2 separate regions of the Homo sapiens genome follow, and region 2 is linked to region 1. A link means that fine-mapping ties the variant in region 1 to the expression of a gene that starts in the linked region. Tissue or cell type: subcutaneous fat. Region 1 holds a variant in brackets; the other region holds the start of a gene. All regions are shown on one strand. Distances are from middle to middle.

Region 1 (8,074 bases):
AGCCAGTGTCTCTAGGGCCTGAGGGCTCCAATCCCCAGTGTGAGGTGAGGCGCTCGGGCCTGGGAGCTGATGCCCAGCATACAGTCGGGGGTGCCCCTGCCAGGTGTGGTGCAGAGCACGGCGGGGGTGTGTGAGACCTGAGGATAGCGTCTGGATGTTTCTCTCACGTTAACGGGAATGAGATAGGCTCATTGGCTGCTCATCCCCAAATCCAAATGGAAAACCGCCATTCGGGCCAGGCAGAGGCAAGTACTCCCACCCGTTGCCGCTGCCGTGTTGAGCCCACCGTGCCGAGTGGTGTTGGCAGGAGCCTCCCGAGGAAGCTGTGCCAACGCAGGAGTGGTCAGAGCCTGTCCAGGCCACAGACGGGGCTACGATGAGCACTGCTGCCCAGGGCATGTTGGGGGCAGCTCCTGGAGACCACAGGGAGGGGAGGTGGGCACCCAGGTGTGGGCAGAACTGGACCAGGAGGAGGAGGGGCAGCAGCTTGCTCAAGGCACAGGGCCTCAGCCACAGGGTGGCGGGCTGGGAAGGGGCGAGGGTGTGGTGGGTTCTGAGTGCCCCATGCAACGGCTGTTTTGGGCCACGTGCTCAAGCAGGCACCCAGGGAAGACCAGCCTAGGTGCTGGCGTGAGGCCCTTCAACATCAGCTACGATGCTGCTTCATCAGGAGCACAGCCTGGGGAAAGAATGAAACTGACCCAGGAGACAAAAGGGTCCCCGGGCCAGACGGTCAAGCAGGAGGCTGCTTCGCTGCCGCGGGATGTGGCATCCAGGCTAGGCAAGGGGACGGCAGGCTGCCATCCCCAGAGGGAGTTCTCCGGGCAAGGCCGTGACCCCACTGGGGCTCTGAGTTTGCATCCTTCCTGTGTGTCAAGAGCAGAGCCGGCCACTGCCAGCCCATAGCTCCCATGGTGCGGCCCTGGAGAGCTGACTTCATGCGGGATGTCTGCTGTTCTTTGCGTAGCTTTACTGAGACAGAAAGCGTGTACTGTTCACTTCAGGTGGCCACAGTGTACAAGTCAGGGATTTTAGTGTATTCCCAGTTATACAGCCATCACCCCCAATTCTATCTAGATCAGCTCCATCACCTTAAACCTCAGGGCCATTGAGCAGGCACTTGCTGTCCCCTCCTCCCCCAGCTCCCGGACTCTGCTTTCTGCCTGGTGCCCAGCTTCTCACGCAGCATGCACTGCTCCTGCGCTTTCTCTGTGGCAGCCGCGGTTGCACGGCCCATGTCTTCCCCGCTGTGTGTTCATCCTCCACTGGACAGCTGGCTCTGCTTCCACTCCGTGGCTGTTGTGAATCCTGCTGCCGGGAGTGTGTGCACACACAAGGTTTTGAGTGGAGGCTTGACTTTGCCCTCTTAGATTTAGGCCTGGGAGTGGAACTGCTGGGTCCCCGGTGTTCTCATCAATTCTCTTCCAGTCTCTGGGAGAGGAGCCAGCAGCAGCTGCTTCGTTGTGGGTGGGGGGAAGGGGGAGGCCCGTTGTTCGGGCTCCCCTCCTTAATGCAGGCCTGAGCAGCCCTCACCTGGTGCCACATGAGCTACTCAGTCTTAACAGACCACCCCATCATGTCTTTGAAATTTGACCAGAGGCCAGACTTGGGGGCTTAAAGGAGTCCATGGAAAACCAGTCTGTTAACAGGGAGGGGGAGGAGAGTAGCCATCCCTGAGGAATGTGCATCCTGGGACCTTCAGGACAAGCCCTGGTCCATCTGTGTCGCACAGCAGCAGGATGTCTGCGTGGTAGGAAGTGGAGGGCTCCGGGGGCTCTGAACAGCTCCTTACCACAGTGGGGTCTACATCTCCTTCCAGGTGGCTGCGAGATGCAGGGCGTGGTGGGGGTGGGGAGAGGCAGGGGCAAGTGTCCTCTGGAAGCAGACTGTGGGCAAGACTGGAGTGGGTGTCCCAGCCATTCCTGGGCTGGGGCCACCGTCCAGGAGGCGTCCATTCCCTGTGCAGCAGGTACTGTATCTGTAGGGCAGCACCCACCCCTGCCGTCCTGGGAGCTTCCCAGAGGGGCCACGCTCCCTCTCCCCCTGCCTGGTGTGAGCAGAACACAGCAGAGTGCAGGACTGCAAGAATCACTGCAGAAGGGCGCCCCCGGAAAAGGCTCTGTTGTGAGACGTGTCCTACCTGGCCCCGGCAAGCACAGGGAAGGTGGCAGCTTGGTCCGAGTGCCCAGGCTGTGCGGCTGAAGGGGGAGTCTGGCACTTGGGGCTCCGGCGGAGGCTGAGGACTTGTGAGCCACTTCAGGGAGGTGGTGGCAGCAGCATTCAGGACCATAACCTAAATCCAAGGCAGCTCGCAATTGGACACAGTCCTCCAGAGCCAGTTGGCGTGAGGGGTTTGTTGAGGAAGGTGTGGTGAGGGGGGGTTTTGTTGAGGACACTGTGCTCACGGACTTTGGGAGTCCTCTGAGTTCCAGGGCCTCTCTGCTGGGCTGCATCTGACACTGGCCATGGCAGCCATGCGGGCCCTTCTGAGATTCTGAGGTCCCAGTTCCACAGGGCAGGAGAAGCCTGCTGACTGGCACAAAGGCCACACGCACCGAGACGTTTGCTTGCAGGGAGGCCTGGGTGGTTCTCTCCAAGGGGACCCTGGGAGAGCTGGTACTCAGGGTGTCGGGGCCACAAGGGAATTCCAAGGGAATTCCAGGACCAGCAACCTCAGACGTACAGGCAGCTGGGGCTTCTCTCCCGCGTCTGGACTTCACGGAGCTCAGGTTCTGGTGGGCCTTTGGTGTCCAAGCGTTTCTAACATCCTCCCGTACGCTTCCACCCCCGAGGGTCTGCTAGCTTGGTGAAAAGACGTGGGTGGGAGGCGTGGTGGCCCAGGCAGAGCCCCCCGCAGCTGTCGCTCACCTCTTCCCCTCGCTCTCTTCCAGGGCTCAGCGCCTATCCTGGTGGTCATGGTGATCTTGCTCAACATCGGAGTCGCCATTCTGTTTATTAACTTTTTCATCTGATGAGATGTCGCGGTAGCAAAAATAGAGAAAGGGTAGAAAAAAGGGACATTAAAATTAAAAGCAAAACCACAAGAAGGGAAAGACCGCAACTCGGACAGCCCAGCGACTTCCAAGTCCTCTCACAGAAGAACCACACGATTGGGTATCACTCACAGTTTGCCTTTTTTTCTGGGTAATGTTTTTTGGATTTTAGCCAAAATTCTTTGCTTGTATAACACTCTGCTGTGTGGCATGGCAGAAGGAGGCCAGCACGCAGCCCCTCCAGCTCCACGTGGAGACAGAAGGGATCCCGGCACATCAGTGGTAACAGCGGACGTTGTCCTCGTGGTCACACGTCCCGTCTTGGGTGTGGATGGAGGGCAGCCCGGGGCAGAGCCTCAGCCCCGCGGCCCCTGAGTGGCAGGGCTGACTCCCGTCGACACGAGCTTAGAAAGTGGATTCACTGCTTTCTCTGTCTAGAACAGACGGGTGACAAGTATGGGCAGGAGGCATGGGGCAGGGTGGCCCACCCCAGTGGGCAGTAGCCTGGCCTTTTTCTGTGTGAGATCTGTGCTGCACACCTGAGGGAGGGGGAGGGATCGGCCACCTCCTCCCTGTGAGACGGATGCAGGTCCTTCCCTCTTCTCGGCACTGCCCCCGGCCTTCCATGAGAAGCCGACTCCCCACACCGAGTTTTAAAGCAAAGCCCTTTTCTTCTGCTGCCCACTCACTGTGGGTCCCATTCGGCTGTTTCCCCCACCAGACCCCAGGGAAGCCGGGGCCCACTCCGATCCGCCTGGGCTCAGCTAAGCACGGAAGCCAAGGGGGCTGTGCCGTGGAGCTGGGCTCGCGCCGGGGCTCTGGGTGTGTGCGCTTGGCGTGCAGGGTGGACGCGTGGGGTTCCGTGTCCCCAGCAGTGAGGGCCCTAGAGGACGCCTTCTCCCATGGTTACTGATCTCCACGGGTTTTCACATCTCTGTACTGTGCCTGCCTCAACTTCCCCTAACAGATATGCATATTCCTTCCAGATGCCTCAGTGCTACACCACAGTGGGCCTGGTCCCAGGACAGGAATGCGGTTCAAACCCAGTGGCTTGAAACTTCCTGAGAAACTGTAGCATATCCAGCCCCCTAAAATGTACAATGTAACTTGTTCAGTCCAACAAAAACAGGTTCCTTATGTTTCTGCCTTCTCCACCAGGGTCGCTCCATCACCCAAACAAAAGAACAAGGTTTGCCAGGATGTCCGAGTGCCCCCTGGCCCTGGCTCTCGTGTGCATGGACGTGCCTGAGGGGTCCGGGCACGGCCATACGCAGGACCCCTGTGCCCGGGGAGGCGCTGCAGGGATTCCCCATCCGGTCGTCTTGGGGCCAGCCCGTCTTATGGACTCTGCCTTGCTTTGCTTATGTTTAGCTGTTTCTCTGCTACCTTTCGAGCAGACTTCTTTACTACACTGCACTGGATTGCTATATTTTTAACCAGAAATAAACTAAAGATTAGAGCATGTTCCAGTTAAATTCAGTTTTATTGTTTTCCGTTACATGTTCACTCCCTGTTCCTTCTCGCCGCCTGGTCTGGTGGGGGCATAGGAGAGGGAGGGAGGACTGAAGGTCATACATTTCTGATAATGTCGCTTTCTAAAGGGCTGTGACATTTTTGTACATCTTTTCCATCTTTTAGTAGCAAGTGGTTGCTGCAGACCAGAAGTGAACCAAATAAAGACTCCTGCTCTGTGCAGCTCTCAGACTCCTGCTCTGTGCAGCTCTCACAAAGATCACAGCTGCTTTTGTACATTCCAGTAACTGCATGACACAAAACGGTACCTGTGAGCAGGAAACACATTCACACCATGAGACATGCACA[G/C]AGGCAGGTGTCCCTGAGCGAAGTTGTGCAGAGATCTAGGCCTAGGGGCAGTCAGCTCCTGCCGCAACACAACCTAGAAAACCAAGGCGAGAACGGCCCCTTGCCTTCCAGCAGCGAGGGCAGAGGGCAAAGCCACTTCCCTGTGAATTCCAGGAGGATTCAACCAAGGCTAAAATGCCCCGGGTCTGAGAGAATCGAATCTTTAATTGGTTTCCACATGGGGTGATTAAGCAGAAGGCTGCTTCCCGCCTGTCCGGAGCCTCGGCCTTCCCTGACAGGCACGCAGTCCCTCCGCCCAGGCCCAGGGGACCTGCTTCCCTGCACACAGTCGGGCAGGGCAGGACAGCATGTGCCCGGCTGGCTGCTGCTGCATGGAGAATTTGACGAGTTTTCATTAACCCGAGAGCAGCCTGGTGAGAGCCATTTTCCGCCCCAATAGCTTCTTCATGTTTCACCTGTGCACCCGAGGCCAGGAGGAAGTGGTGGCATCCCCTGCAGACAGCAGCGCGGTCTGCGGGGGGTGGGTGTGGACAGCCCATGGGCCAGGCTGGCGTCTCCCCACCCTTACAAGCCTGCAGACAGGTCCACCTCTGGCCCAGGAACAGATGAGCCCCGCCCTGGAAGAGCTGGAGAAGACCCTCTGCCCCGGGGCCTCTGGTGAAACTGTCTGTGCCCACGGCTGGCCTGTTTTACTTACCAGCCTCTGCACACTGGATGGACTGGTGCTTTCTGAAGTTCAGTAGCGCACAGAATGTGCCTGGATAATTTCGGGAACTGAAACAGTCTCTTTATCCATTCTTTTGGATCTAGAACCATTACCTCACAGGATTCCCAAAGATACAGATCAGGCATGCAATGCCTGAGCCGAGCTAACTGACAAGACAGTGGTGATGTAGAAAAGCAGGGCAGGGCCGGGCGCGGTGGCTCATGCCTGTAATCCCAGCACTTTGGGAGGCCAAGGCAGGTGGATCACCTGAGGTCAGGAGCTCGAGGCCAGCCTGACCAACATAGTGAAACCCCATCTCTACTAAAAAAAAAATACAAAAATTAGCCAGGCGTGGTGGCAGGTGCCTGTAATCCCAGCTACTGAGGAGGCTGAGGCAGGAGAATCGCTTGAACCCGGGAGGCAGAGGTTGCAGTGAGCAGAGATCGCGCCACTGCACTCCAGCCTGGACGACAGAGTGAGTCTGTCTCAAAAACAAGATACACACTGTAGAAAGACGGGCCCTCCCCTGCATTCACTCAGCTCGCTCCCCTGTAAGGCCCCAAGCCAGGCCATGGGCCAGCGGTCCCCGGGACGTCCATACTCCAGGCTCTAACCACACTTGCTCCTTTTCACTTGTAGAAGCACATGGCCACCGCGTCTCACGGAGGGCCATCAGTCACCCCCAAGGCGCTGCAGACCTAAAGTGTGGAGAACTCGAGGGAAATGAAATGTTTTTCATACTTTTGCAGTTCAGGTTCTTGGTTGTCCTTTACTCCTTCCCCGGGAGGTTTTATCGACAGCTGGACCCGTCGGACTGAAGAGACCCTGAGGCCTGTGGTGGTCCCCAAGCTGCTGGCGCTCCTGGGCCGTGTGCGGGTGGCAACTCCCCTCACAGTCTTCATGGGACAGTGCGGATTTCACCTCATACGTGCGACAGACGCTCTGCAGGAGACAGCGGAAGGACCGTCTCCCTCCTCTAGGTCATGCTCACTTTCTCTGACTCTTCCGAAGTTTGATCTGACTGTTCTTGCCTTTGGTCTTGGAAACTTGACATCAAGGTGCCTATTAGATTTTCAGTCGTCGCCTTCCATAGCTGCAGGTGCTGTGACTGTTTCTGCCTTCAGCCGGCCGACAGCACCGGGCGCAACAAGCTTCAGGACATCATGATGCCGCCCTCCTGCAGTACCTTTAACCTCGCCCGGGCCAGGGTCTGCCTCCAGCCCAGGACCAAGACCCCGATTCCAGATAAGGCGGAGGGAGGAGGGCAGGGGGTAGAGGGAGGAGGGCAGAGGGTGGAGGGAGGAGGGAGGAAAGAGGGTGGAGGGAGGAGGGCAGAAGAAGAGGGCAGAGGGAAGAGGGTAGAAGGAAGAGGGTGGAGGGAGGAGAGAAGAGGTGGAGGGAGGAAACAGGGTGGAGGGAGGAGGGAGAACGCTGGAGGGCAGAGGGAGGAGGGCAGAGGGCGGAGGGAGGAGGTTGGAGGGCGGAGGGAGGAGGTTGGAGGGCGGAGGGAGGAGGTTGGAGGGCGGAGGGGAGGAGGATGCAGGGCAGAGGGAGGAGATTGGAGGGCGGAGGGAGGAGGTTGGAGGGCAGAGGGGAGGAGGTTGCAGGGCAGAGGGAGGAGGTTGGAGGGCGGAGGGAGGAGGTTGGAGGGTGGAGGGAGGAGGTTGGAGGGCGGAGGGAGGAAGCTGGAGGGCGGAAGGAGTCAGTCAACTCAGGCACCTGGTTGGCTTCTCTCGCGCCCAGGCCGCGTGTCAGGTGAGGCAGTCGGTACGCAGAAACTGAGGAAGCGACTGTCCCCAGGTGCCAAGGAGGTTGCTGGCTCAGCCTTCAAAACAAGCAAGGAAGAGTGCAGCTGCATTTGTTGAAAAAAAGCCAGGCTGTATTTTCACCATGTGCCCCCTGCCTTGAAAATGAACTACGGAATGCACAGCGCGTGGGGGGTGGGTGCTGGAAAGGGACAGAACAAGGGTCCGTGGCAACCACAAAGCACCTGCAGGCCAGCGCTTCCCGATGAGCAGAGGCGGGGGCTGGCACCTGGCGCTGGCTGCAGACGGGAAGTCAACGCCACCAAAGCAGAGGACCTCAGCCACCCAGGTTAGCAAGAGGGTAGCAGGGCGCTCAGGAACAGGTGAAGCCATACTGTGGAGAGAAGCTGAATGCTCCTCCCAAGCTTCAGCCCACCCATTAGGAACAAATGCTCTTTAAGTCTGTTTCTTCATGAAACCCAAAGTGGAAGTGCCTGAGCTGTGAATGCGGCCACAGCGTTCATGCCAGCTTGTTCCCAAGCCTAGGAGAAGCAAGCAGCCCCGTGACGGGCACAGGCCACAGTGTGGGCGTGAGCTCACCCCATGTGTAGCCGGGTGCTGGGCCCAGGCCGCTGGGTTTCTGGGGTCGGCAGAGTGGGCCAGGCAACAACCTCACATGCCTACCTCACTGCCACTCGTCCGCCTCGTCCACTCCTGGCATTTGGGATAAACATCCTGTCTCAGACACACCCTTCTCGTGCGCCCATGCCACCTGCTCAGGCCTATGCCGCCCGCCCGTCCTCCCAAGC
Region 2 (8,074 bases), 68 kb after region 1:
GGGCACGGAAGTTCCACAGTCTGAGTCCTCTTGGCATCGAGTGTCTGGAAATGGGCTATGAGCGCTTCCAGGTCTTCCTAGGGCAAGCAAGCAGGCACACGTGAGACTTATTCCCAGGACCCGCCGCGGAGCCACAGCCCGCTCAGCTTTCCTCCAATCAGTGTGATTCGACTGGGCTCAGTCACATCTGTGAATTGCAACATACTGTGCCTGTTTGAAATGCAGAGTTTGACACATTCGAAAGTAACCAGAGCTTGACCTCAAAGGCAGTCTGCTTAAAGGGTAGATGTGTGCACCAAGTATTATCTCCACACCCTTAACGCTCCCTCTGCAAGACCTTCCACTTAGACAAGCCCGTTGTGACTTCACTGCAGACACTCTCAGCACCTCTCATAACCCAGACTCGAGCCGTCGCACCTGCCAGCCTTCCTGTCTGCAGAGCAGTGTCTGACAAGAACTTCCACTTAGACAAGCCCATCGTGACTTCACTGCAGACACCCTCAGCACCTCTCAGAGCCCAGGCCTGGGCCGTCACGCCTGCCTGCCTTCCTGTCTGCTGAGCAGTGTCTGATATATTTCTCTTGCTTATTTGTTTCCTCCACCCCAACAAAATAATAAAATATGAGCTCCACCAGAGCAAGACTTGTGTCTAGTTAAAACACTGCCTGCACAGCAAGAGCTCAGCAAATACCAGCTGCAGTCTATCCAAGTAAGAAGGTCTCAACTTTTACTACCATCGAGAGTGACTCAAGGTACTGATGTGCCAGCACAGAGGGCAGCACTGGAACCCAGTGTTCCCGCCTCAGTCCCAGTGCCCATTTCCCAACATTTACGAGACACTCCCATGCACACCCGAGCCTGGCATTTCAAGTTCCTTCTAGCCTTCAGTGTCCTGCTTGCAACTACACACACCTGCAGACCATCTTCCCTCCCCCACACCCACCTCTCCAACCTCACCTCCCACCTGGCCTCACTCTCCAAGATACACCAGCGTCCTCTCCGTTCCTTCAATGAAAACGCCAGGTTCCCTCAGCCTGCCACGCCCCACCTCGTGCTTCCTTCAGTCTACCTCTCATCTCAGGGTGAATGTCAGCAGGGTACACTGCTTAGTATTCTAAACGATGCAATATTTAAAACACACAAGTTAACAGAACTTTATCCAAGACATTCCTGTATACGGTTCCCAGGGTAAGGAATAAAGTGTCACCCACATGTACCCACCCACACATTCCCTCAAGTAACCACTATCTGGAACTCGATGCTTATTAGTCTCACGCTTTTCTTCAATCTTTTATTACACATGTGTATCCCTAAGCAACATATAGTATTGTTTTACATTTTTAAATGTCATTAAATGGACTGGGCACAGTGGCTCACGCCTGTAATCCCCGAACTTTGGGAGGCCGAGGCAGGTGGATAATTTGAGGTCAGGAGTTCGAGACCAGCCTGACCAACACGGTGAAACCCCGTCTCTACTAAAAAATACAAAAATTAGCCGGCCACAGTGGCGCACACCTGTAGTCCCAAACTACTCGGGAGGCTGAGGCAGGAGAATTGCTTGAGCCTGGGAGGCAGAGGTTGCAATGAGCTGAGATCATGCCACTGCGACACTTGCTCTGGGTGACAGAGCAGGACTCCATCTCAAAAAAAATAAAAAATAAAATGTCATTAAATGGTATCATACTGTATATTCTTTCAACTTGCTTTTTTTGCTCAACGAGGTTAAACAAACAGTTCAAATACTAACGTCTATGTACCGCGAAAGCTTTGCTGCTGCTACTTAGAGCGGTCTTTGACCTTGGCTGAACCTCATCATCATTGGGTGACTGAAGGAGAGCAAGGTGGTAGGGTCTGGGTGACGCCAGTGGCCTAGCCAGTGACAGCCTCTCCAAAGTGACAATAAGCTGAATGCTGAAAAGACGACTCAGACGGAGTATGGTTGGGGTATAGGTAAGACCACAGACACAACTTGCCATGTTTGAGACACTAAAAGACACTGTGGCTGGAGTGAGCCCAGGGAGACAGCTGGAAAGACAGGCAGAGGCCAGGACTAAGTGAAGGTGCGAACCAGGTGACCTGATACATGAGTTCTGTGGGAGCAGAATTCCAAACTGTCCCCAATCCTTCCCCCAATAATTGCCAGGACTGTGAAAGAATGGGATACCACTCTTGTGATTAGGTTGTATTACAGACACAGCTGAATTTAAGAAAGAGATGATCCTCTGTGGGTCTAGCCTAATCAGACGCCCACTTATTTTAAAAGTTTGTTTTGAGGGTTCATTCAGATAACATACAAACCCCAGGCCTGACAGGCTCTCTCTCTTAAGGGAAGCTACTGTTACAATCACCTTAGTATTGGGTACTGGAGGGAGACATGGAGATGAGTAAAAATGACAGGTAACTGGCGGGGCAAGGTGGCTTACGGCTTGTAATCCCAGCACTTTGGGAGGCCGAGGCGAGCGCATCACCTGAGGTCAGGAGTCCCAGACCAGCCTGACCAAAACGGTGAAACCCGGTCTCTATTAAAAATACAAAATTAGCTGGGTGTGGTGGTGCATGCCTGTAATCTCAGCTACTTGGGAGGCTGAGGCAGGAGAACCACTTGAACCTGGGAGGCGGAGGTGCAGTGAGCTGAGATCGCACCATTGCACTCCACCCTGGGCAACAAGAGTGAAACTCCTTCAAAAAAAAAAAAAAAAAAAAAAAAAAAAAGCAGAAAGCAGCTAACAGCTGGTTACTGAGTGCTTACTTTCTGCCAAGCACCATTCTGAAGATACCACACAGATGAACTGACTTCCTGTGCCACAACCCTAGCCAGCAGGTCATGCCACTGCAGCCCAGCCTAGGTGACAGAGCAAGACTCTGTCAAAAAAAAAAAAAAAAAAAAGAAAGAGCCTAAGAGGAGTGTGAGGGAAAAGTCCAACTCCATTATTTAAGAGATGAGGACATGGAGAGATCAATGACTTAGGAAGAAAAGGGACAAAGGACTGTGGTCAAGAGCTCCTGATTCAGGACATCTGGTCACATCCCAGTTCCATACCACTTCATGGTTCACCTGTTGGTCTTCCTGTCAAATGGGAATACCAGTGCTACGGAACTGACCTGCTCGTGAGGAGTAAAGCCCAGGGAGCTGTGCCTGGCGCACGGCAGGCCATAAAACTGGCCCCGGTTAGGGAATCCATGAGCAGCAGCCGCAGAACACTCAACCCCAAGGTCAGGACGGATCCTCCTGCAGACCCCGGGCTGAGGACCAGAGGGAAGGAGACAACCGTGATGGCCGCCATCAGCTGCTACGGGATACCCCGTGGCTCCAGTGCCTTCTTCACTTAACCATCTGCTGCTCACTGCTCAGGGCTGCTGTGATGATTATTTGCCCTCTTTTGAAAGAAAAGTAAGGTTCAGAAAAGTTAAGAGTCTTACTCCCAGACCACACATCATGCAGAGGCAGCCCCCGGCTCAACCTCAGGTCTTCCTGTGCCAAACCCCTCCCTCTTCTCACCACCCAGCCTCCCTTCAGAGGGAGGGTGGAGGGAGAAGGGAGGAGGGGGAGGAAACGCAGAAAAACGCCCGTGACACCACACTAAGAAAAGCAAGCACGTTAAAGGGGGCAGCTCCGAGAAGCGGACAGACACACGTGGAGACTCAGGAGGGGGCGGGCCCCGTCTGGGCTGCCCGGACGCGGCGCCGGGGCAGTTCCTACGGCCTCCAGCTCTCCCGCAGGGCCGGCGCGGCTCCCACGGCCGACCCGTAACCCCGGGGGGCGCAGGGAGTCGGCCGAGGCTGCACGGCCGCGACGTCGGGCCGCTAAGCCCGGTCTGACCCGCTCACCTCCTCCTTCCGCGAGCGCTTAGACACCTTCTTCTCCATCTTGGCGGCCGTCTTCTCCGCGCCGCGGCCCTTCTTCTCCTTCTTGCCCTTCTTGCCCATCTTGCCGGGTCCCAAGCCGCGACGGGACACCAGGAAAGAAAACGGCCCGCGCTCTCCGCTCGGAAACAGGTGCTCGTGGGGCGGAGCTCGGCGCACAGAAATGGAGTCACTTCCGGCCCCGAGTTCGAGCCGCTTCCGGGTAGAGGTGCGGCTGGGCCCTTTACGAGGTTCGGTCTTGGAGCTCCGTCTTCGGCAGCGGGCTCGGGGGCCTCGGACTCTGCATAAGGCCCCGGAAAAGATGACCGGCCCCGGGCTGGGCGCGGTGGCTCATGCCTGTAACCCTGGAGCTTTGGGAGGCCTTGGCGGGCGGATCGCTTGAGTCCAGGAGTTCGAGATCAGCCTGGGCAACAAAGCGAGACACCACCCCCCACCCCCAGTCGCTACAGAAGAAAAAAAAAAAAATTAACCGGGCGTGGTGTCTCGCGCCCAGTGGTCCTAGCTCCTCGGGAAGGTGAGGCGGGAAGATCGCTTGAGTCAAGGAGTTCCAGGCAGCAATGCGCCCCTGCACCCCAACCTGGGCGACAGAGCGAGATCCTGTTTCAAAAAACAAAAAAGATGGCAGCCCCGGCCTGACATACCCCGGCCATGCTCGCCAATTCTCACGCCCTGTGCCCCCACCTAGCCTGTCCCCGTGTCCTAGGAGACGTGCCCTCTGAGTTTTATTTTTTATTTCTATTTTTTTGAGGCAGGGTCTTGCTCTGTCGCCCAGGCTGGAGTGCGGTAGCGCGATCTCGGCTCGCTGTAACCTCCGCCTCTGGAGTAGCTGGGACCACAGGAGCCCACCACGCCCGGCTCATTTTCTCTTGAGTTTTCCGGGGTGCACGTGCCCCCCGTTAAGGCACATTGCTTCGCCCTGGGTAGAACTAAGTGGGCGACTCTTGGGCTAGCCCCATTTTTTCCCCTCAGACCAAACAAATGAGTGCTTTTTTCCCAGAAAAAAAATTTCACACAGTTATAAGATTTTGCAGATCCTGAGTAAGACAGTCCCTGCCGGGCGCGGTGGCTCACGCCTGTAATCCCAGCACTTTGGGAGGCCGAGGTGAGTGGATCACGAGGTCAGGAGTTCGAGACCAGCCTAGCCAACATGGTGAAACCCCCGTCTCTACTAAAACTACAAAAATTAGCCAGGCGTGGTGGTGGGCACCTGTAATCCCAGCTACTTGGGAGGCTGAGGCAGGAGAATTGCTTGAACCCAGGGGGCAGAGGTTGCAATGAGCTGAGATCAAGCCACTTCACTCCAGCTTGGGCAAAAGAGCAAAATTCCATCTTAAAAAAAAAAAAAAATGGGGGGGCCCTTCCACCTTCCCATTTAAAATGTGCCAGACACTGTTAGGTACTAAGGGCATGTCCTCAAATGTCCTAACATGGAGGACTTTTGTTTCTTCATAGGTAGGCTAGAGCTAATGATAGCACCCTGAAAGGGTACTCAATTTGTGGAGCCTGAGAAATAAAGATAGGTAATATCCAAATGCCTGCTAGGAAATTGTACTCTAGGATTTGCCTCAAATTACGTAAGAAATGGCAAAATCATCTGCAGTGCATGGAATGTTATGATTTGAAAGAGCAGAGTAAAAATGCTTATCACTACTTAGAAGATGTCATCTTTGGATGGGTAATCAAGGAATAAGGCAAATTAAGGACAAGGACAAGCCAAAATTTGGCAAAGGGAAAGCATAAATCAGGAAATAATCTAGTTTATTACTTTGTGTGTGAGTCAGCCTTTAAAAGTTCTCTTAGGCCAGGCGTGGTGGTTCATTCCTGTAATCCCAGCACTTTGGGAGGCTGAAGCGGGCTGATCACGAGGTCAGGAGTTCAAGACCAGCCTGGCCAATATGGTGAAACCCTGTCTCCACTAAAAATACAAAAAAAAAAAAAAAAATTAGCCAGGTGTGGTGGCACCCACCTGTAGTCCCAACTATTCAGGAGGCTGAGGCAAAAGAATCATTTGAACCTAGGCGGCAGAGGTTGCAGTGAGCGGAGATTGCACCACTGCACTCCAGCCTGGGCGACAAAGCAAGACTCCATCTCAAAAAAAAAAAAAAAAAAAGATGTTATCTTAGATCCAGCCAGGTGTGATGGCTCACGCCTGTAATCCTAGCACTTTGAGAGGCAGAGGCAGGCAGATCACCTGAGGTCAGGAGTTTGAGACCAGCCTGATCAACATGGTGAAACCCCATCTCCACTAAAAATACAAAATTAGACAGGCATGGTGGTGCGCACCTGTAATCCCAGCTACTCGGGAGGCTGAGTCAGGAGAATGGCTTGAGCCTGGGAGACAGAGGTTGCAGTGAGCCGAGACTGAACCACTGCACTCCAGCCTGGGCAACAGAGCTAGACTCCGTCTCAAAAAAAAAAAAAAAAAGAAGAAGTTAACTCGGCCAGGCGTAGTGGCTCACATCTGTAATCCCAGCACTTTGGGAGGCCAAGGTGGGCAGATCACGAGGTCAGGAGTTCAAAACCAGCCTGGCCAACATGGTGAAACCCCGTCTCTACAAAAATACAAAAAAATTAGCCAGGTGTGGTGGTGTGCACCTTTAATCCCAGCTACTCAGGAGGCTGAGGTAGGAGAATTGCTTGAACCGGGAGGAAAGGTTGCGGTGAGCCCAGATCACGCCATTGCACTCCAGCCTGGGCAGCAAAAGCGAAACTCTGTCTCAAAAACAAAAAAAGTTACCTTAGATCCAATCAATGACTAGTCACTGAGCAGCTGAGGAGGAATGATTTTCCAACCCACTCCAAGCCTTATCCATAAACCTAGCTCTTTAAGAAGAAAAATGAAATTTGGGGAAATAATGAGAAGAAAAGATAGCACTGGTTGAAGACCACCATGGTCTCCAGCACTGCTTGTAGGAAACCTATGTGGTGGTAGAAAAAAAAAACCGGTTAGGAGCTGAGCAGAAAGGAGCTGGAGAATTTCACAGAAACCCAGCCTGGGCATCCAGGCATGTTTATCTTCCATGACGAACTACAAAAGGCTAAATCCTCACTATTGCCCTCGGGAAATAGTTCTGTCCCCTCTAGTGTACTATGACTTTAAGAACATACGTAATCCTTTAATATTTTTCTAAAAATCCTGGGTAAACCTGAGGCAATGCACTTGAAGCCAAAAGGCTCTTCATTCACAGCACATCTGGCTGCAGTACATTACAGTGGTGCCCACTTCAGGCCGGAGACAGGGAGAGCGTATGACCTATTGAAGATTTAGGAGGATCTGGTGGATGCGGGGTTTAATACTTTTATTATCTGAAAGAAGCTTGAAGCTAAATTAGAAGGCTCTTGGATTATAGGTGTCATGGTGATTTACGTGAGACTGAAATTCTCATACTGAGAAAGACGGAATAGAACATCTAAAATGAGATCAGATCCTAAAATAGTCAAAAGATTAAGTACAAGGCTCTATTTTAGTAAAATTCACATTGTTGAAACTTTCATGGATTATCTTTAATCTGTCGCTGACTTTTAGAGTGTATCTTTTGTGTGATCAGGCGCCCTCTGCTGCCTTCAAGTTGAAGTGCAGAAGAGAAAAAAAATCTATTAATAATAGATTAAATTTTAGGAAAATATGCTAACTTCTAATTATCCTCACCACAAGTAATCAATGTGATTGGAAGGTTCTGCCAAGTGTGGTATGGATTACGTGGCTCTTTGCACGTTTCCCAGCAGGAAAGTGGGAATAATGAACTAGTTCACCTATTACACAGGATTCTTGGGAAAATCAAGTGAAACAATAATAAAGCTTAGGAAAGAGGCCAGGCGCGGTGGCTCACGCCTGTAATCCCAGCACTTTGGGAGGCTGAGGCGGGTGGATCACGAGGTCAGGAGATCAAGACCATCCTGGCTAACACGGTGAAACCCCGTCTCTACTAAAAATACAAAAAATTAGCCGGGCGCGGTGGCGGGCGCCTGTAGTCCCAGTACTCGGGAAGCTGAGGCAGGAGAATGGCGTGAACCCGGGAGGCGGAGCTTGCAGTGAGCCAAGATCGCACCATTGCACTCCAGCCTGGGCGACAGAGTGAGACTCCGTCTCAAAAAATAAAAATTAAAAATAAATAAAATAAAGCTTAGGGAAGTAAAAAAGCAAAACACAAAGGCTTTTTTTTTTTTTTTTTGAGACAGAGTCTCACTCTGTCACCCAGGCTGGAGTGCA

The links. PIP is the estimated chance that this variant, and not a neighbour inherited with it, causes the effect.
Region 2: it holds the start of KLHDC4, and the variant in region 1 is fine-mapped to the expression of KLHDC4 in subcutaneous fat (GTEx, PIP 0.91).

What each region holds. Positions count from the first base shown.
Region 1 is chr16:87,693,689-87,701,762 of GRCh38, forward strand. JPH3 (junctophilin 3) reads left to right here. Exons shown (of 5, transcript NM_020655.4): 5 at 2,892-4,468. The coding sequence ends at 2,972. It overlaps LOC100129215 (a long non-coding RNA gene), which reads right to left and starts at 2,453. Exons shown (of 1, transcript XR_109334.3): 1 at 949-2,453. It also overlaps a transcript of KLHDC4 not described here. RefSeq lists enhancers at 4,937-4,996, 8,023-8,072. The variant G/C (reference allele first, on the strand shown) is at 4,815.
Region 2 is chr16:87,761,964-87,770,037 of GRCh38, forward strand. It overlaps KLHDC4 (kelch domain containing 4), which reads right to left and starts at 4,023. Exons shown (of 12, transcript NM_017566.4): 1 at 3,829-4,023; 2 at 1-77. The coding sequence starts at 3,927. It overlaps LOC105371399 (a long non-coding RNA gene), which reads left to right and starts at 4,078. Exons shown (of 3, transcript XR_933871.3): 1 at 4,078-4,378. LOC102724467 (a long non-coding RNA gene) reads right to left here. Exons shown (of 4, transcript NR_120309.1): 4 at 4,368-4,461. RefSeq lists enhancers at 409-478, 3,311-3,935, 3,919-3,978, 4,059-4,118.